Linked DNA regions of Homo sapiens. The protein of the gene in region 3 interacts with the protein of the main gene of each other region in a pairwise test. Each region holds a gene or a part of one and is shown on either strand. Other genes may lie near its edges.

Region 1 (7,027 bases), on a different chromosome or scaffold from region 3:
GAGACTCCTGCAGTCATTTGGGGAGAGGATGGTGGCTGAGATGGTAGTGGTGGAGTTCAGGACATGTGCTCATATTTGGGATATTTCTGAAGATAGAGCTGACGGTATTTATTGATTGAATGTGGGCTAAGGGGAAGAGAGGAATCAGATGAGCCTAAGGCTTTTGGCCTGAGCAACTAGGAGAGTAGTGGAGCCATTTGCTGGGATGGGAAGTAGGAAGAGGAGCAGGCTTGGATGAAATGGGGGTGTGGAAAACACGAGTCAGTTTCAGACACTCTAGATGTGAGTGAGATGCCTGATATTAGATATCTAAGGGAAGAAGAGGTTAGGTAGGCATTGGATATTCTTCTGGAGTTCACATGAATCAGAGCCGGGGCATATATTGGGAAGACATCAGCTTACAGAAGGCATTTGAAGGAATGAGAATGCATTAGGTCAGGTAGGAGTCTCAACTCATTGGATCTGACACCTCTTTTTTATTACAAATATTTTGTAACAGTCCCTTTTATTACCCTAAAATGAAACATATGATTAATAAAAACTGCCTACACATAATTTTTTAAAAATCAACAAATGCAGCCGGGCGCGGTGGCTCACGCCTGTAATCCCAGCACTTTGGGAGGCAAGGCGGGCGGATCACCTGAGGTTGGGAGTTCAAGACCAGCCTGACCAACATGGAGAAACCCCATCTCTACTAAAAATATAAAAAATTAGCCGGGTGTGGTGGTGCATGCCTGTAATCAGTCCCAGCTACTAGGGAGCCTGAGGCAGGAGAATCGCTTGAACCTGGGAGGCGGAGCTTGTGGTGAGCCGAGATTATACCATTGCACTCCAGCCTGGGCAACAGGAGCGAAACTTCGTCTCAAAAAAAAAATAAAATAAAATATAAATAACCATGCCCTATAACATAAAAGGAAAGTAATTGATAGTAAAACAAAATATGTTTCAATATGTAAGTTTCTGGGCACAATAGTGCTGGAAGTTGCAGTGAAGCTGTCCCTTCTGTGTGGACCCTCTAGGAGTGTGATGGCCACAGACACAGACTGACACAGCCGTGTTGTGTCGCACCTCGAAAACCACTAGTGCCATTGCTGTAGATGATGTGGTTTTTCCAGAATGGACACTTTTGGTGCCATTTTGAGACCAATTTTGACCATTTTCAGTCTCCCTTCATTGTACATAGGCGTCTTATTCTTGGAAGTGTTAGTTCACAGCAGAACCATGGAAACACTGCACTGTGTTTACATGTAAACAGAGTTACATTCTAGGTTCAGATAATTATAAGCTAATCTTTCACCTATATGGATGTCAAAGTCGTGCGGGATGCAGAGCAGTAATTGGCTATGTGGACTGCCCCTTCTTTATCCCTGCTTACTGAACGCCAGGAGCATATCCCCAAAATACCGCCACAGGTTTCCAAAGCTCCTCTGAAGACAACTGTAGCCCCAGAGATTCATTTGGACACAGCCAGCTCCCTGTTTGCCCCGGGGAGGGGAAATAGTAACAAGAGTTCCAGAGTGCAGAATGGAATGTAACTGCTCCCTTCAGAAATGTTGGGGTGGGAGATGGAGAATGTGTCTGATCGTGAAGCCTAGGAAGGCTTCGAGAAGAAGGTGGCGTTTCAATAGGATGGGAATGTCTCAAAGGAGGATCTGTGGTTGAGGGGGGCACCCAGATGAAGCAGCAGGTATCATCACATAACACTGGACCTGAGGCTCCTCCAGGCACAGACAGGTCTACCCGGCATGCTCCGGGCACTCATCAGGGTTGGCTGGATTGACAGGGAGGCTGGGAGTGGTTTCATTTGGCAATACCGTAAGGCAGGCTCTGCTTCCAGGGAGTAGTGGTTACAGCCTGGTCTTACAGTGTTCCAGCCGTTAGAGTGTTGGTTTCCTTCTCCATTTTTAACCCCTAAAGACCAGACCAGTCCCCTGAAAATCGCATGCCTGCTCTCTGTCAGTCATCAAACCAGACGGAGAACTTAAAGTACACCAGCTGTGCGTAAGGCCAGTGTGGTCTTACTGGTCCCTATCTTTGTGCCGCTCGTAGCCTCTCAGGGGACAGACATTACTCAAATCACACCCTGCACAAGTGCTATGAAAGAGAAGTAGGAGAGCCGTGAAAGCAACATGTATCTCAGGGGACTGATTCAGGGGATGGGGTGGGGTTCCCTGAAGAAGTGACCTCTGAGCTGAAGATAGGTAGGATTGATGAAGGACTGAAGGGTGGGTGCAGTGTTCGTTCATTTCCTTCAGACAACGGGAAGAAAGCTGGTGTGTTTGGGGAGCTGAAAGGCGCCCAGTGGGGCCAGGTCCTGGAGAGCCTGTGGCTGAGACTGGGAAGACCAGCAGGGCCAGATGAGGCCATGGGAGCCGAAAGAAGGGTGCTGGTCTTTATCAGAAAAGCACTGGAAGCTGCTGAAGGGTTTTAAGCAGTGGCCTGACATGATCAGTTTGTGTTTTAAAAGGTCACTTTGGTGGCAGTTCATGGAGAATAGCTTGAGGTGACAAGACAGCAGACACGACGTGGGTCTCTGGGACTGCCTGTGCCGTTGTGGGCAGCCCCTCCAGAGCCCTGAGTCACGCAGCCTTCAGAGGCACCCATGGCTACGAGAAGCACAGTCTCTGCCTGAGGCTCCAGAGCGGCCCTTTTTCCCCAGCAGCAGACCTTGGGACCTGTGAGCGCTGCATCCAATTAACCATGGGAAGGGTCAGCACCAGCCACCAGCCCCTTAGGTGAGGACTCTGCCTGGGGCTCTGCTGATGGTTCCGAATCATGGAGCTGCAGAGAGCTCCTCCAGCCTGGAGACGTTCTTGGTGAAAGCTGTGGTCTAACTCCACCGGCTCTTCCTGCACATTGTATTCAAGAGGGGTGCCTGCCCCCGCTGACTCAGGAGCTCCGGTGCTGCAGCCGCCACGAATGGGGAGGTGGGCCCTCGATGTGGCCTTTTTGTGGAAGGCGGTGTTGACCCTGGGGCTGGTGCTTCTCTACTACTGCTTCTCCATCGGCATCACCTTCTACAACAAGTGGCTGACAAAGGTACCAGGAGGCCTTGCTGGGGCGGGGTGCTGGGATGAAGGTGGCCAGAGCCATGGCTACGGTGCCCTTCATGTTTAACAGGAAGGCACAAGCTTCAACCAGTCTAACTGGAAGCCAGTCACGGCTGGGCTGGAACAGGGCCCTCCAAGCCTGCCGTGCCAGGGTTCCCCTTCAGTGTTTGGATCCAGGGAAACCAAGGAGAGCGGGGGGTGTGAAGGGATGAGCTGGGGAAACTGGGGCTCAAGCAGCAGCTATTTACCCCACTAGAGAAGTATTTCAATATTTTAATAAGTGATACAACGTAGTGGGCCGCAGTGGCTCTCACTTGGGCATAGGCCGTGAGGAAGGCTGGGCAGGTAGCTCACAGGTGTGTTGAAATGGTGGAGACAGCACCAGGCTAGGATTGAGTCTCTTGGCTGCCACCTGTCTTCGTGACCTAAGAGTCTGTCATTCCAAGCGATGATACCGTAACTAAGGGCCCTACACACATAGCAAGGTCCTCATGAACCACCGAATGAGCCCCACTCCAGCAGAGGGGCGAAGAGGAAGAGGGAGCCGGTGGGGGGCAGGCTGTCTAAACCAAGCCGGGGTGTCTGCTTTGGGCTCCATACAGAGCTTCCATTTCCCCCTCTTCATGACGATGCTGCACCTGGCCGTGATCTTCCTCTTCTCCGCCCTGTCCAGGGCGCTGGTTCAGTGCTCCAGCCACAGGGCCCGTGTGGTGCTGAGCTGGGCCGACTACCTCAGAAGAGTGGCTCCCACAGGTAGGTGGGGGACCTCAGTGAGGGCAGAGCAGGAAGAGGGGCTGGGGAACCATAGGATGAGAACAAGAGAGACACCCGCATGTCTGGAAGCCAAGTCCCTCCCCTCTTCCTGCACTGTTCCTCCTCTGCCCTCTTGACCTGGCCTCCCACCACCCACGCTGCTGCCTCTTGTGCACTGCGTGCCTTCCCACTGCCCCACCACACACCCACAAAACCCCCCCTGCACCTGCGGCCCCGCAGCTCCCTCTCCTGCCAGCAGACACCGAGCCTGGAGTGCAGCCCTCAGGCCTGGAGATAAGTGGTGAGCAGGCAGGGTCCCTGCCCTCGCAGGGCTGTGACACGGACATGGAGGGCACTACGGAGCCCAGGGAGGGGACCAACCCAAGGCCGGGGCCCATGGCTGGTAGAGGAAGATTTCCTAGGCCAGGTGCCAAGTAGGCAGAGCCCTGAAGGATGCGTGGGACTGGTTGGCCCTGGGAGGAGGGGCCCTCGTGGCCCGAGGGAGATTTAGTGCCAGCTGTGGGGTCTGGAAGGGAACTCAAAGTGTTTCAGGATACTGAGAACCCGGTGCTGGCCAGAGGAAGTGGGAAAAATGAGAACTGAGAGGGTGGGCAGGGGTCATGTCCTGGAGGCCGGATTCCCCGTGGAGGAGTTTGTGTTCCATCCTGAGGGAAAAGGGTTTCCAGTAAGGGATCAACCAGATCAGGTTAATACCTCCGCTCAGGGGGCTCGCCGGAGTGTTTGTGGAAACCATACCGGCCCAGCCAGTTGGAATGGGCCCCAGCCCTAATGCTAGAGCAGCCCCCGACCTTTGGGGGCCAGATATTAACCCTTTAGTTGCTGGTGGAAAAGAAGGCCCAAGGGCCCCACAGGAGGCACCGGGATGGTTCAGAAGTGGGGGACACTCAGGTGCCTCAGGGTACCAGCCCACCCCAGCAGAGTGTGGACCTCCCAAGCTGTCCTGTGGGTGCCTGTGTCTTCACAGCTCTGGCGACGGCGCTTGACGTGGGCTTGTCCAACTGGAGCTTCCTGTATGTCACCGTCTCGCTGTGAGTACTGGCCATGCCCTGCTGCCTCCCTTCAGGCTGAAGCTGTCTGTCTGTCCAGCGGGGTGTCTGCACACCCGGCTGCTAGGCCAGCCACTCCACCACTCTGGGACCAGCCCTTGCTCTCTCAGCCTCTCCCTGGCACCCAGCAGCTCTCCGGGAAGTCGCCAGCCTCTTCCGTAAGCCCAGCGCAGAGGAGATGCTGTGCCCACCTGCCAGGCAGCGTGGGGAAGCCAGGGAGCTCTCCCAGAACCCCATCATCAGAGCAGGGGAAGGCAGGCTGCAAGGCCACAGACAGGTGGCCACTGGTGGGTGGTACACGCAGCCGCAGCAGAGCCCTATGTGGCCTGGGGGCTACACAAGAGTTTCTTCTTCCCTCTGATGTTTTGCTTCAGAGAGCACTGTTCCTGCCTTCTTGTCCTCCTACTTCTCATCCTTCCTTCCCGCTCCTGGGCTCTGCCGAGGGTTAGGTAAAGAACAGGACTCAGGGAGCTCAACGTCAGACCTGTAACCTCTTCTCTCTGGTGATAACCAGAGGCCTCTTAGTCAGAGATTCCTTCTGATTAAAGGTCGCTTATCACTCAGATGACAGCCCAGCTCTGTTTGGTCATTTCGCTCAGTGATTTGTGCTCCTGCTCCTTTCTCGGTGATGGGTCTGAGCCCTGAGCTCCAGCAGTGCATTGTGGGTAATTTTGCTTCCAGGTACACAATGACCAAATCCTCAGCTGTCCTCTTCATCTTGATCTTCTCTCTGATCTTCAAGCTGGAGGAGCTGGTGAGGCCCCAGCGTCTCTTGTGTCCTTCCTGCCCCCACAGATGCTAAGAATAAAGTGGGAGTCTGAGCAGTGGCTTGTCCTGCTGTGTGACAGAGGAGACAAGCCCAGTCCAGGTGGCAGTAGATCCCTTTCTGAGAAGGGACCTAGACATGGGCAATACTCAGAATATTTAGAAACCAGTGTGGCAGGGTAATGACCAAAGGTGAAAGCACTGCAGGATGAGGGTCCCAGCAGAGCTGGGTCTAGGAAGCACCCTGCTGTGGGAGGCAGTAGCCCTGTGTGTTAGGCCCAGGGAGGAGGTGGGACCACTTGGGGGCCTAGGACAGCCGTCAGTGTGGCAGAGCAAGCAGGGCTGTTGGCATACCAGCTGACCGTCAGCCCTACATGCTGACATTGGTGGGCAAGGACTGTCCAGGACCCCCTGGGATGGAGCTGAAGGGTGGAAGGATTTCTTGCCCCAGGGGCAGCCAAGATGGCTGCTGACCCCAGGCTCCAAATGTGATGAACCCTTGACCCTCAAGACCCCCGAGTTAGCTGCCACTGCTCCCCATCCTACCAGCGCGCGGCACTGGTCCTGGTGGTCCTCCTCATCGCCGGGGGTCTCTTCATGTTCACCTACAAGTCCACACAGTTCAACGTGGAGGGCTTCGCCTTGGTGCTGGGGGCCTCGTTCATCGGTGGCATTCGCTGGACCCTCACCCAGATGCTCCTGCAGAAGGCTGAACTCGGTGAGCACGTGCCACTCATCCTCCAGAGAGAGGAACCCCGGCACAGGCAGGGCGGAGGCAGGGCAGGGCCGGACCAGACCTGATGGTGCCTGTCCCCCGCCCTGCAGGCCTCCAGAATCCCATCGACACCATGTTCCACCTGCAGCCACTCATGTTCCTGGGGCTCTTCCCTCTCTTTGCTGTATTTGAAGGTACGTTGGGCCTTCCCTCTCAAGGGCACCTCAGTGCAGCAGACCACAGATCCTCGCCCTGAGCCCAACACAGTGGTAGCTGCAGAGATTATTGAGATCAAAGATGCAGTCCCTCCCCTGGAAGCGCATGGTTTGGGGTCCAGCATGATAAACGCTACAGAGAAAGCACATATAAAATTCAGGGAACAGTAACAGTAAGTGTGCACAGAGCCCTGAAAGTGCACCAGGGCTGTTCTGATCTTTTTAAACATAGGAACTCATTTCATCCTTCCAAAAACCTGGTGTGGCAGTACTATTATTATCCCCCATTTTGCAGGTAGAACAAAATGAGGCCCAGAGAAGTAAAGATAACTTGCCCAAGGTCCCATAGCTCGTAAATGAGCCAGAATTTGAAGCCAGCAGCCTGGCTCCAAGTGGTCCAGCCCTACTCTTAACCACCCTATCTTGCCTCTAAGGAATGGGGAATCAGGGATTGTTCCAAGA
Region 2 (7,027 bases), on a different chromosome or scaffold from region 3:
CCTGGGAGGCGGAGGTTGCAGTGAGCTGAGATCGTGCCACTGCTCTCCAGCTTGGGTGACAGAGCGAGACTCCATTTCAAAAACAACAACAATAAAAGCCCAAAAACACAACAAAAAAGTAACATTATTATAACCGTTCTGTAAATGCCAAGCCGACTCATAGCAGCTTACCAAGGCACACAGATGGTAAGAGGAAAGGCTGAGATTTGAACCCAGGTCTCTCTAGTGCTAATGTCCATGCTCTTTCTATCTCATTGAACTGTTTGCTTTATACCATGGAGCTCCTCAGGCCATCTGGGCACTGCCCTTTGCTAGCAAAGGAGCTCCAAGCAACATGTTATTTCCCCTAGAGCCTGGCAGCGCTTAGATGTCCAGAGTGGGGACTCTAATCCTCTAAAGTCCAGCCTGTACCTTAGCCATTTGCTCAGAGACTCTAGTCACTTGAGGGTGAGCACATTTGAGAAACGGTGGGGTCTGTAAGAACAAAGAGTCTTAAGAGATCATGCTGGCTGGTTGTCTGGGGAAAGGAAAGATAGAAAAAACCCACAGATTTCTAGCAACATTGCTGAGGCAAACCGAAAACAGTCTAGGCTATTACCAGTTAGAAATGTTTGATAAAGAAAGCATCATTTTGGCCGGGCGCGGTGGCTCTCGTCTGTAATCCCAGCACTTTGGGAGGTCGAGGCAGGCAGATCATGAGGTCAGGAGATCGAGACATCCTGGTTAACATGGTGAAACCCTGTCTCTACTAAAACTACAAAAAATTAGCCGGGCATGGTGGCGGGTGCCTGTAGTCCCAGCTACTCAGGAGGCTGAGGCAGGAGAATGGCGTGAACCTGGGAGGCGGAGCTTGCAGTGAGCCGAGATCACGGCACTGCCCTCCAGCCTCGGCGACAGAGCGAGACTCCATCTCAAAAAAAAAAAAACAGAATAGAACAGAGAATGGAGGAGAGACAGTGTTCAGAGACAGAACGGCTGAGGGAGGGATGACTCTTCAGATTCAAGAAGCATAATATGCCCTGAGCAGGATGAATAAAATACATCTACACCTAAACACCAAGCATCTTTAAAGTGATAAATGGCAGCTACTAAGAGACCCTACAGCAAATATCATCTATGTGTTGAAACCTCAAGTGCCTGTAATATCAGGGACATATCAAGGAGACTGCCTCTCCCTGTTTCTATCAATATTGTGTTGGAAATCCTAGGTGAAGACCAAGTAAATACAAGGAAGAAAAAGACTTGGAAAGGAAGAAACTAAATTATCATTATCTATACCTACTATTTACATAGGATACCTAAGAGAATCTACAAAAATACTATTAGGACAAGGAAGAATATTCCACAAAATTGTTGATAGAAATCAAAATATAAAAATCACCTATATTCCAGCAACAAATTTAGTAACAAATTTAAATATTTAAAATATTAAAATGCTTTTAAAGTTACAATAGCAAGAAGTACTCCCCAGTTCCGGGGATAAATTTGACAAAAATATACAAGACATTTAAAGAAAAAGTTAGAAACCTTTACTGAAAGACTTTAAACGTAACTAGATGGAGAGTAAAACCTCACAATTGTAAACAATTTTCTCCCAAATTGATCTTCAAATTCAATGAAATCCCAATCAAAATGCCCATTAGATTTCTCAAAGAACTTAATAAGCTGATATTAAGTCACATGGAAGGCTAAGTAGCCAAAAATAGTCTTAACCAAGGGACAGCCAGATAATAAGTGTTTTAGGCTTTGCAGGCGCCATAGGTCCCTGTCATGTATTGTTCTTCTATTTGTTTGCAAACAACCATCCTTAGCTCTTAGGCCACAGTTTGCCCACCCTCGGTCTAAACCATTTCAAAGAAAGAGCAGTAAATTTGCAAGAGGTTGGTAGGATTTGTCTTATCGGAGATGAAGGTTTCCTTTGTTTTCTTTTTTTTTTTTTGAGACAGAGTCTCGCTCTGTTGCCCAGGCTGGAGTGCAGTGGCGCGATCTCGGCTCACTCCAAGCTCTGCCTCCCAGGTTCACGCCATTCTCCTGCCTCAGCCTCCCGAGTAGCTGGGACTACAGGCACCTGCCACCACGCCTGGCTAATTTTTTGTATTTTTTTAGTAGAGACGGGATTTCACCATGTTAGCCAGGATGGTCTCAATCTCCTGACCTCGTGATGCACCCGCCTTGGCCTCTCAAAGTGCTGGGATTACAGGTGTGAGCCACTGCGCCCAGCCAGATGAAGGTTTCTTACAGAGCTATCAGAATACAGAGTTTGTGATACTGCACAGGCATACGAAATGGACAAACAAAACAAAAAGCCACCAATCAGGTTAATGCATGTAGGAAAACCTGATATGTGAGAGAGATGACGTTACAGTGATTGAAGGAAGAATGAACTGCCCAGTAAGTGGTCTAGGGAAAATTCCTAATCTATATAGAAACAAAGAAAAACACAAAACAAAATTAGATTCCCCATCTCTCATACTAAACCAAAATAAATTATGAGGGGATTTAAACACAAAGTAAAATGTCAAACTTGAAAATTCCATTAAGGGAATATAAGAGACTCTCTTTATCACCATGCAATAGAGAGGATTTCCCAAATAAAATACAAAAGGCACAAATCCAAGAGGAAAAATAATTTTGATCACATTATATGTAAAGAATCAGCTGTTCATTAGAAGACTCCATAAGCAAAATTCCTAGACAAACAAGAGATTGGGAGAAATTGTCAAAACATGAAAGCATCAAAGGAAAATCAATGAGAAAAAGACAAAGATCTCAGAAGAACTGGAAAGCAGATGAACAAATTTCAGAAGCAGAAACCCAAATAGCCTGTAAACATGTGAAACAACTATAAAATATAATTTCACAGCTGTCATTTTGACCAACATTTTATTTTATTTTTGAGACATGGTCTCACTGTTGCCAGGCTGGAGTGCAGTGGTGCAATCATGGCCTCGACCTCCCAGGCTCAGGTGATCCTCCCACCTCAGCCTCCCAAGTAGCTGGGACTACAGGCACGTGCCACCATGCCAGGCTAGTTTTTTGTATTTTTTGTAGAGACAGGGTTTCACCATGTTGCCCAGGCTGGTCTTGAACTCCTGGGCTCAAGCAATTTTCCTGCCTTGGCCTCCCAAAGTGCTGGGATTAGAGGCATGAGCCTTGGCCAACATAATAATCTAACTAAATGCTGAAGACAACCTGGATAAATGAGAAGCTATACACTCCTGGTGGGTGTTCGTGTACATATATGGGGGAAATGATTATTTTAATCTGCAGAAAAGGTTGTTTTTCTCTTGAGAAACACAGCAGAAGGAAATGCAGAGCTGTTCTGTAGATCCTTGCTCCTGTGCCCTGCTCCTTCCCCATCTTGTGTTCCCACGCTGGGCACTGAAGCTCTGATTCCCTTTCCCTGTGTCCTCTATAGGTCTGACTACCTTGCCATCCCATCTGAGAACAAGGAGAACTCTGCGGTACCAGTGGAGGAATAGAACAGGAGCAGTGTGACATGAGGTGACCTACAGGAACATGGGAGGGGAAGGCAGATGTGGATGGCAGGTTGTACAAGTGACTTTGTTGCCCACAACTGAAGTGACTTTAAATTTGGTCCCTTAGGTCACTGTCTACCCTGCCTGGGGTCCCCGCCCTCAGGGTAATTCTTTAAGTCAGAAAGCTCTGTATGATGTCAGCGCTTCGGAAGGTGAACTGCTTTGACCTGAGTGTCGAGGCAATCTGAACTTGCCCATGGTAACAGAGGCACAGGATTCTCCAACTCCCTTCTTTGGTCAAAGAATTTTTGGGCTGGGCTGGGCTGGACTGGGTGGGAAATTCTCAGTGAGTTATTTTATCTTTGGTAGGTGGCCTGAACACCTGAGGGACTGGACATCCCATGTTCAGCAATGTCAATGGCATCAGGAGGGCGCCCCAAGGGCCCCATCGCTTCCCTTCATGCATCCATTGTTCTGTTCATTCATTCATCCATACATCCACCTGCCTCTGAGCTTTCACCTCTGACTCCCTAACTCCATCAGACCTCTACGCACCATAAGACTCTGCCAGAACTGAGAAGCCAACATTTCTACATAGACTCAACCTCACCCTCTCCTAGTTTTCCAACAAGACACTCCAAAGCCAACTGGATTTCTCCCCTGTGCTCCAAATGACTTTGTACAAGTGCTGGAGTTAGCACCTCCCTCTGCCCTTAACTGGCTGGAACTGGTTCATTCTCCATTACTGCAAGAGAATGGAAGTCTTAATAGAAGGAAGCAGGAGTGATTAGTTCGGGTTAAAGCAAAAGTGTGTCATGAACTTGGATTCCCTGAAGTCAGTTTTGTCAGGTTCATGGCCCACTTTGCTACAGCATCAGAGTGAAGCACGCCTGTCTAGGTTCTCCAGTGACAGAAAGATCCTGAAGCATGGACTAACATGCTCTCTGGAGCTTAGTACTCCAGAGCTAGATCCTGATGGGTCTCTAAGGTTCCCTCCAAGAAGACAAGGACAGGAGACTTGGGAAGGACCAATGGTAATTTAAGTGGCTCTTAAAAAGTCATGCAACATGTTTCTGGACACGTTCCTGATCCTATTGCGATAATGTATGTGTGCCCTCCCTGTGGGCACACCACCTGGGCATTAGGACTGAAATTCCTGAGTTCTTCCTCTCAAAATTTCTGTGCACCAGTATTATTCCTCATTTTACATACAGGAGGCAACTAAGACTCATACAGGGCTCAACTGAATAAGAGGCTTAAGAGGATAAACTGGAGCAGAAATAAGCCTTAGGTGCTGCCCAGTTTACACTTCCTGGGATGGATGTTTTTGTTTGTTTTGTTTTTTGTTTTTTTTGTTTGAGATGGAGTCTCACTCTGTCACCTAGGCTAGAGTGCAGTGGTGTGATCTCGGCTCACTGCAACCTCTGCCTCTTGGGTTCAAGCAATTCTCATGCCTCGGCCTCTCCAGTAGCTGGGATTACAGGTGTGCACCACCACGCCTGGCTAAATTTTGTATTTTTAGTACAGACAGGGTTTGACTATGTTGGCCAGGCTAGTCTTGAACTCCTGACCTCAAATGACCCACCCACCTCAGCCTCCCAAAGTGCTGAGATTACAGGCGTGAGGCACTGCGCCCGGTGGATAACTTTGTTTCTGAAAAGACTGACATTGAACTTGTCTATGGCAATGCTTCTTTCACAAGCACGGACTGGGCTGAGGTCAACTCTGATAGATTCAGATGACTAGAAATTGGCCAAAAAAGCAGGGAGAAGAACATGAGGTAGACTTAAAGAACTTCCTTTATGTAAAGATCTGTGACTCTGAAATATCCTCCAAAAGGAGAGTGCATCTGAGACTGATATTTAAACTAAGAAAAATGTTTAGTCTGAGATGGATCATAAGTAAATGAGCAGTGTGAGAGGGGAGGGATGGGTAGGTGCTTTCCAAATACTTCGCCTATGAATGCATAATTTTCAGATTTTTTTCCCCTAGATTTTGAGGGAGCAGAGAAACTGGAAAAAACTTTAGTCAATATCTCGTGTTTCATTTTAATTAAGTGACAGGTCCAAGTGTGACATCCTTCAGCACCCAGGGACAAGAGAGGGGAAAGATGCTTTATGGAATGTAAGAAGATGAAGGTGACTGGGATTCAGCGAGAGAGAGGTCCCTCAGACCTGGGACCTCCCTTTATAGGGAAAGACCATATTCCATAGGTTTAGGGCTTTACCTTAAAAGCTCATTTTTTTCATTCTTCCATCCCTAGGAAAGTACTTAAAACCAGACTTTTAAATTTTTATTTATTTATTATTATTTTTTTGAGACAGATTCTCACTCTGTCTCCCAGGCTAGAGTGCAGTGGTGCAATCTCAGCTCACTGCAGCCTCAACTGCCCCAGGTTTAAGCAATCCTCCCACCTCAGCCCCCAGGTAACTGGGACTACAGGCATGCACCACCATGCCTGGCTAATTTTTGTATTTTATGTAGAGACAGGGGTCTTGCCATGTCGCCCAGGCTGATCTTGAACTCCTGGGCTCAAGCAATCTGCCAGCCTCAGCCTCTCAAAGTGCTGGGATTACAGGCCTGAGCAACTGTGCCTGGCCCAAAACCAGACCGTTAACACATTAAAGAGTCTGATTTTGTTGAAGAAAATATTTGCAATAAATTCAAGACTCTTCTTATTGGTAATTTTCCACACAATCCCTCTGAAATAAGGGAGAGGATATAGACCTTTTTAACTTTATAGTTAGAAAAATTGGCCTCAGTGTGAAATTTTTCCAGTCCCATAGCTCATGGATGCCACCAGCTTGCGGTAGTAGCAAGATGCTTACTACCACACCGTTTTCCTCGGTGGCCCAATAGCTCGTGTATCTAAGTTGAACCCGGCAGTATGCATGATTGCCTTTTTCTCTTCTTTTTAAAAAAACCCAACTCAGATGCTGCTTGCGTGGCTTTTAATGAAGCTGAATGGTATCTATCACTTATTTATCCTTGACAGGTTATCTTCCCCACTCTTCCTTTTTCTAACTTCTCCATTCTTCTCATTCTTGACACTTTCATTAGAACTATATGGTTTACGAAGTATTTTCACTTAACTATTTTATTTCTTCTCTATAACTGGTCCTGTGAGGTCACATTACAAAAGAAGAAACTGAGGGTCTCTGAGGTTAAGTAGCTTTACTAAATTATAAGGAAACCTAGCTGGTAGGTAGACAGCAAGAATCCAGGTCTTCTGACTCCTCTTTCAGTTCTCTTTCCACTTAGACCATAGCTGCTTCCTTTTCTTATTTTTTAGCTTCCATCTAACCATTGCCTATCTTGCCTGTCCTAATGTTCTCCATCTTCTCTCACCCCTAATCCCACTCACTGCTTCTCTACCACTTTGCTTTTTGGTGGATGCTAGCAATGTGCTTTGAGAGTCAGTCCTATTTTGGTTCTCTTTCTAGTTGGTTTGTACATCATTATTTCTCCTGAATTGCAATTAAACTCCTTCCTGGGAGATTTGATAATGACTGTAAATCAATAAGGTACTGTGATCACCAGCCTACTTC
Region 3 (7,027 bases):
TGTTCTCATGTGTGTGAATGCACATTTATTTTACTCACATGGCAATAAGAGCTCTTCATACTATGTTTGTTGGTCTGAAGGAGGGCAAACACTGAGTATCTTGGGAAAATCTCCCTATTGGTTCCCAGAGTCTTCAGGTTTACTTTAGATCCCTCACAAGCTTTTGAGAACTTAAGATTGTTTTCGATACACCTAATGAAAAAGATATTCTTCGCATTGATTGGAATCAGTCATTGAAAACACTTATAAAGGAGCCATAAATTCTACTGTGCGTGGTCAGGAAAGTATTGGACTTGGAGAAAGAAGTTCCAGAATCAAGACCCGGAATCTAGCTGCAGCCCTTCCACTAACATTATATGATTTGGACAGGTCACTTCATTTTTCTCAAACTTCAATATGTTCATCTTTAAAACACGGATGTTAAGCCCTCTCCTGCCTGCCTCCCAGTATTGCTCTGGGGAATCAAACAGATAAAGGATGTGAGTTTGCTGTATAAGCTACATGGTACAACACCAATACAATCATCATGTGTAGTGGATTTGGACTCTGTCAATTTAGCTGAGCTGAAACTACATTTTCTAGAATTGCTTTTTTGTGTGTGTTTCCAAATTAGGGCTGGCAACAAGAGACACCTGTGTAATATTCAAAAGGTAGAATTGAAACATAAGTCGTTTTCCCTGTTGAAGATCAGTGCAGGTCACCATGCACTGTGACAACTCATGTTCATGGCAACTGTTATCCTGGTTTACTTAACGGCAAGGGGTAGCCCCTGTACCTGCGTCTCCTTCCATCACAGTCAGGCTTTTTTTCTAAGACTTTCCTCTCCCTGGGCTAGTTAAGTGTGTAGCTCAGTAATGAAAGCACTAGCTTCTAAAAGTGACCTCACACCATCAAGGTTAGACTTGGTGGGAGACAGACATAGGTTCCAGTTTTTCCTCATAAGTTAAACATTGTCACCAGACATTCCAGTTTGTCCATGCAATTTTTTCCTATTCCTTTTTCCCTATTTCCTCTTCACAACTGCCAACTGATTGGCCTATTCTAACTTCAGGCCCAACACCAGATTCAGAGAAAACAACTTTCCATAGTCCCAGCCAGCTCTCATAATTGCATCAGCTCCCAGCAATAAATCTTTATTCTATATCGCAGTGTGTTCTTCTATCATCAAACCCTACATCATCAATATCAAAGATAGCACAACTCCAAGAGATGCTTTGATTTCCTTTGCAGCTATATCACACAGCTTAACTTTGCATATTCAATAAAGTTCACATACTTCGGAAAACAAACCATATGCTCTACATATGCAGAAACACTCACACAAACACACATATAGTATCGCACCTACTAAAGCATCTTGCACATAAGAGTATATGCAGTGTTTAAACACAGACTCACACAGGCACACACACACACTCGTTAAGTTGCTTTAGTTAAAACTTTACCTAAACCAAAGATATCTTTTGAAAGCAACCAAATCAGGATTTATTAATTAAAGCTTTGGAAAAGTCACAAAACCCTGGCCCCAATTTTTTATGAGAATGAGTTGAAATACATTTTTTTTCCAAAAAGATCTCCCACGTACACATGAAAATGAGATGTTCTCTGTTGCCATAGTGTAAACTCCCTGATTTTGCCCCCAATTGATTGTAACCTCTAAGCTAACCATGACTGTGCTAATAAGAATGTTGAAGGATTGGAAAGAGGATCTATAAGTAGGAAGAAGAGCTCAAGAGGGAAAGGTACTAGAAACCTATGAAGCACTCTCCACTTGAATCAAATGCTAAAAGTTAAAAATACTGCTTTTTTAACATCCAGATATACAAGCTCCCTCCTGCTTACTTACCCATCCATTTACTTTCCCAGCTCCATTGCACAGGTAAGAGAGCTCAGCTCCAGCTGGTCGCTGTAGGTTTGAGATTTAAAGCTACCTGCTCCCTCGTTGTAATATGAGCATCCCATCGTAAACTTTAGAGAGTCAGTGCGATCTTAGCAACCCTCTCCACTCCATTATCCATATCTTTTCCACACAAACAATGAATACCCTCACTGGATTAACAGCTTTGTATTCTAGCTGCTATGGTTCTCTCTTTATGGAATACTAGTTCTTTGAGATCAGGTTTAGCATAAACACAAACTGAGGAACCAAAGAAGGAAGCTCGAGGACACACTTCTCCTTAATACTATCTGTGGAATCAAACATAGATCTTTAAATTCTCTAAAGTTCAGATCCTTCATCTTTAAATAGGGATAAGGATAGCTACTTCATGATTATTATGACGATTACATGAGACAAATGTGAGTACACTCAGTAAATATGTGATACACAGAAGGATTTTAAGATGTCTTGGGGTGAATTTTTATATAGTATTTAAGAGAACCAATAAATTTACCCGTGTAGCAAAGTACTTCCGTGAGATATAAGGCTGATGATAAGGATTGGGGTAAAGAGTTGATTCGGTCACACTTGACTGCCTTGAAATCTGTCTTGGCATCGGGTCCTCTTCCTCCATCGATAGGTGGTCAGTCTCAGAGGGTTGGTCATCTCCCTCTTGCTTCAGAGACACAGCCTGGAATCCTTCAAAACTCCCAATTGTTGACATTTCTTCAGCCTAAACCAAGGGCAGAAAAATCTCATTGAAAAAATGTTACCTCTGTACCTGTGTCCTAGCTATGGCAAAACAGAATATGATGAGCAAACGGAATTCCTGAAACTTAAAAACATCCTTCATGTTAACTAAACAGAGGCATTGGTGGATACAGCTTCATAACACAGACTTCTAAATACCATCCACAATCCTGCAAGGTCATTTACCAGAGAAGTGAAGGAGAGACTCTCCGGACAGAGAAAAGGAGTTTAATCCCAGGAGACAGGAACCTGAACAAGAGAAGAGCTATATAAAATAATTACCAGACAATTTCTCTTCAAAATTGCATAGCATTTTTGGTTGAAAATTCACCAGACTGCAAGCTTATTTAAGAGTTAAAAGCAATGATAATGCATTTTCTTGTGTGCTTCTTGAGTCATAATAGAGCATAAGAGCACTTAGAACTGAACATGTTTTTAACTGAAAGATTCGAATTCTAAAAATTTATTCTAAGAAAATAATTAGACGAATACCCAAAGACTCACACACACGCACATGCATACACGCGTGCACACACACACACACACACACGGTTGTTCAGCTGGGCATGGTGACTCATGCCTGTAATCCCAGCATTCTAGGAGTCTGAGGCTGGTAGATCCCTTGTGCTCAGGAGTTTGAGACCAGCCTGGGCAACATGGCGAAACCCAGTCTCTACAAAAAATACAAAAATTAGCCAGACATGGCGGAATGTGCCCATAGTCTCAGCTACTCGGTAGGCTGAGGTGGGAGGTTCACCTGAGCACAGGAAGTGGAAGTTGCAGTGAGTCAAGATCATGCCACTGCACTCCAGGCTAGGCAACAGAGCAAGACCCTGTCTCAAAAAAAAAAAAAAAAAAGTTTGTTCATCACAACACCGCATCTAATAGAAAAATATACCAGGTTATATATAAAAGAAAAACACACCACTTTATATCTCATACAACACTGTATGTAAAAACATTAGACATTCATGCAACATTGAGTCTAACACCAAAAAATAAAATAAAATAAGTATCCATCAGTAAGAAGTTGACTAAATAAAATATGTTGCACTGTAAATACAATGTTATCACTGAAAGTGTGAGTGTATATTTTATCACAGAAAAATATCCAAAATATATTATAAATGGAAAAAAGTAAGTTAAAAAATATTATAAATAATATTATTCCAATTTGTTAAAATAATTTAGAAAGAAAGAGAAGAAAGATAAAGAAGGAAAGGAAAGGAAGAAGGAAAAAAGAGAAGAAAGAAAGAAGGAAAGAAAGAAAGAAAGAAAAAGAAAGAAAGAAAAAAGAAAGAAAGACAGAAGAAAGGAAGGAAGGAAGGAAGGAAGGAAGGAAGGAAATGTACCTGCATATGTATATACAGGCACACATGTATGGTATAACAGATTTAAAAATGTCTAAAAAGAGGGCCTGAAAAGAAGTAAAATAAAATATAACAATAGTTATCTCTAGATGACAGTGTTAGAGGTGATTTTTATTTTTGTTTGCATGTCTGTGGGTGCTAGTAATGATCACACATGGTTTAAAAATAAATAAAAATAATATCTTGGTTTCTATTTTGTACATATAAAGCAAAGCAAAATAAAATAGAAGACACATGTTAGCTTAGCCTGTGCACTCAAATCCTTTCAAGCTGACAGTGAGCATGTTATCAATGCTACCTAGAAAGTTTCATGTCCATTTTCACCATGAAAGTAGGAATGCCATATTATTCTCGGAGTCACCTCCTTGTTCTTAAACAAAAGTGGTTTTTAATCAATTTCCTTGGTTCTTGTGAAACAAAAGAAGGTGAGAAGAAGCCCCTATCCCCAGCAAGCTTCCGCTTTTGAAATTGGGATTAACTAGGCTATTCACAAGAGGTAAAAATAGTATGATCATATAATTTATTAGCTAATTTTGGGATATTTTGGCATGAAAAGGGTGCTATTGACAATTATGTCAGGATGATAGGAGTGAACTGGACAGTCTCAGGCAAATGTGGCTCTATATATATGTTCACCCTGAGGATTTGAATGTAGAAAACACAGCTAAGGTAACTCACAAGTGGAAAGCCTTATGCAGTTTGCTTTATATGATTTCTTAAGCTTTATATGTTTTCTTATCCGATCTTTCCAGCAATCCTAGAAGAGCTACTTAGTCTTTCCCCATCTTTCTGAGGAACACAGAGTAGATGGGAACCACCCAGGGTCACACTTGAATAGTCGTAGCAGCAAGTGTCCTCCCAACCATGCCCCCAGTATAGCACACCCAACATCTGCCTTATGACAGAAAAGATGTCTCTGAGCTTTTAGGTGATCTTTTAAAGTTAGGTGTGCAAAAGGTAGAAATTGGTCTCTGAGAAAACAAGGAATGAAGAAGCAGGAGAAAGAGTGTATGTGTGTGTGTGTGTGTGTGTGTGTGTGTGAGAGAGAGAGAGAGACATAGAGACAGAGACAGAGAAAGAAAGACAGACAGAGGAGGCACTCTGACCTTCCTGTCCCTGGCAGCTACATGCTGTATTTATGCAGGTCTGCCACCTTTATCACAGTGGGTGTTGGAAGGAAATGCATTTCTAAAGTTCTCTATAACCTGTGAAGGAAGGTTTGTGCCATTGGGGAAGGAAAGCCTGCTTCTGTATTTGCGCACTCTGTGAACACACGCCTAACAACAGACATCTGCGAAAGGCTCCTGTGCCTGGAAAACAGAGGGAGGATTTAATTAGCACCACTTCCTCTCCCTCAGGCTGTCTTCTCTGGAAACACTTGGGGAAGCTCTGCGCTCTGAGACCAAGCTGTTTGAGATCCAGGAAAGAAGGAAACTCTCAGCTCCGTTTAAATTCTCACTGCCATAAATAGTGGGAAAGTTGAGCCCAGCTATCCCAATCCAGAGTAATTCCAGCTCTGTTCCAGTCACAGGAACATCTTAGAAGAACAATAAACAGAACTTCCTCAGCTTCCCCAACAGGAGAAGCGTGCTGCACATCTACACATTCCACTCTATTTCTCATGACCTCTGGCCCAGTTCATTCCCAATTCAATAGTAAGTGCTCTTCTATCCCTGCATAGGCTGTATTCCGTGAAATGCTAAAGGTACATTAATACCAGTAACAGATCAAAATCAAATGTTCCATTGCTTTCACATAGATCAATCATCCCCTGCAACAAACTCATTGGGAGCCTTTTAGAACTGAAAAGATTTGCTGTTCTGTAATATTTCCCAGTAAATTTATATCTTCATTTAGAGAGTAAAGGCAGCACAATTTCATAGGAAAACAAAGGGTCAAAACTTAGAAAAAGTAAATGATGTTCAGTTTTTTTTTTTTTTTTTTTTTTTTTGAGACAGTCTCGCTCTGTCACCAGGCTGAAGTGCAGTGGCACGATCTAGGCTCACTGCATTCTCCGCCTCCTGGGTTCATGCAATTCTTCTGCCTCAGCCTCCAGAGCAGCTGGGACTACAGGTGCTTGCCACCATGCCCAGCTAATTTTTTGTATTTTTGGTAGAGACAGAGTTTCACCATGTTGGCCAGGATGGTCTTGATCTCTGGACCTCGTGATCCACCCGCCTCAGTCTCCCAAAGTCCTGGGATTATAGGCATGAGCCACCTTGCCCAGCCAATGTTCATACTTTTTCATGGAATCTTCTCATTCCAGGGAATTCATGTAATAAAAACTACCTGAAAGAAGCAAAATGCTACAATATTAATTGCTTATTCTGAGTAGTAATGAAAAATGGAAAACCAACTAAACACCTAATGTTCAAGGAATGGCTAAGTATATCCAACTGGTATTACACAGGCATTCAAAATAACACGCAAACATTGCAGTAGCACGAGATTAACAGTTGTATCTTCTTGAGTGAAATAAAGCAGGAAACCAAAAATATTTTATCTTGGAATGTTCCACTGAATAATTTCACATTGGTAAAGACTAGAAAGAAAATAGTTATATTTATTGAAGTAGTGGATTGTGCGTCAATTTTTGCTCTTTTAAAAAAATTAAATGGCAGTAGTGCTGATTTTTTTAGCATTAAAAAAAAAATCCCAAATAAAGCCTTAAGGAAGTACTACCTTGCCTTTGATTAGACAATAGAAATACTATATTTCTCAGCTGCCAGAAAATTCAGAACTAAATTTAATATAGTATTATAGTAAATAACTTATTTCCAGATCCTGGTCTAAGTATAACTGCTTCCATTTATAAGGAACTTCATCTATCTCTCTGAGAATTTTTCTAATAATATTATAGAAGCATGTAGGGCATAAATTATAGCTTAAAAGTTATTGTTTAGTTCAACTTTTTTATTTGGCAAATATTGAAACAGACCCCCTGAAATGAGGGTTGTCCATGGCCACACAGCTCCATAGAATGAAAACATGCAACCCGACCTCTAGTTTTCTGGACTCCAGTTCGCTG

What was found. The genes of interacting proteins can lie anywhere in the genome.
Region 1: the proteins of TPRG1 (region 3) and SLC35H1 interact in binary tests that used the Homo sapiens proteins (3 or more experiments, as listed by UniProt).
Region 2: the proteins of TPRG1 (region 3) and SCN3B interact in binary tests that used the Homo sapiens proteins (3 or more experiments, as listed by UniProt).

What each region holds. Positions count from the first base shown.
Region 1 is NC_000020.11:46,354,399-46,361,425, reverse strand, and holds part of SLC35H1 (solute carrier family 35 member C2), read left to right. Parts: intron 1-2,467; exon of another isoform or gene 2,468-2,662; 5' UTR 2,663-2,700; coding exon of another isoform or gene 2,701-2,735; 5' UTR 2,736-2,867; coding exon of another isoform or gene 2,868-2,919; coding exon 2,920-3,039; intron 3,040-3,652; coding exon 3,653-3,803; intron 3,804-4,788; coding exon 4,789-4,852; intron 4,853-5,551; coding exon 5,552-5,624; intron 5,625-6,184; coding exon 6,185-6,353; intron 6,354-6,460; coding exon 6,461-6,544; intron 6,545-7,027.
Region 2 is NC_000011.10:123,630,598-123,637,624, reverse strand, and holds part of SCN3B (sodium channel regulatory subunit beta-3 precursor), read left to right. Parts: intron 1-3,418; coding exon 3,419-3,482; 3' UTR 3,483-3,504; intron 3,505-3,848; 3' UTR 3,849-7,027. UniProt on the Homo sapiens protein: Regulatory subunit of multiple voltage-gated sodium (Nav) channels directly mediating the depolarization of excitable membranes.
Region 3 is NC_000003.12:189,202,961-189,209,987, reverse strand, and holds part of TPRG1 (tumor protein p63-regulated gene 1 protein), read right to left. Parts: intron 2,613-7,027; coding exon of another isoform or gene 2,604-2,612; coding exon 2,394-2,603; intron 1-2,393.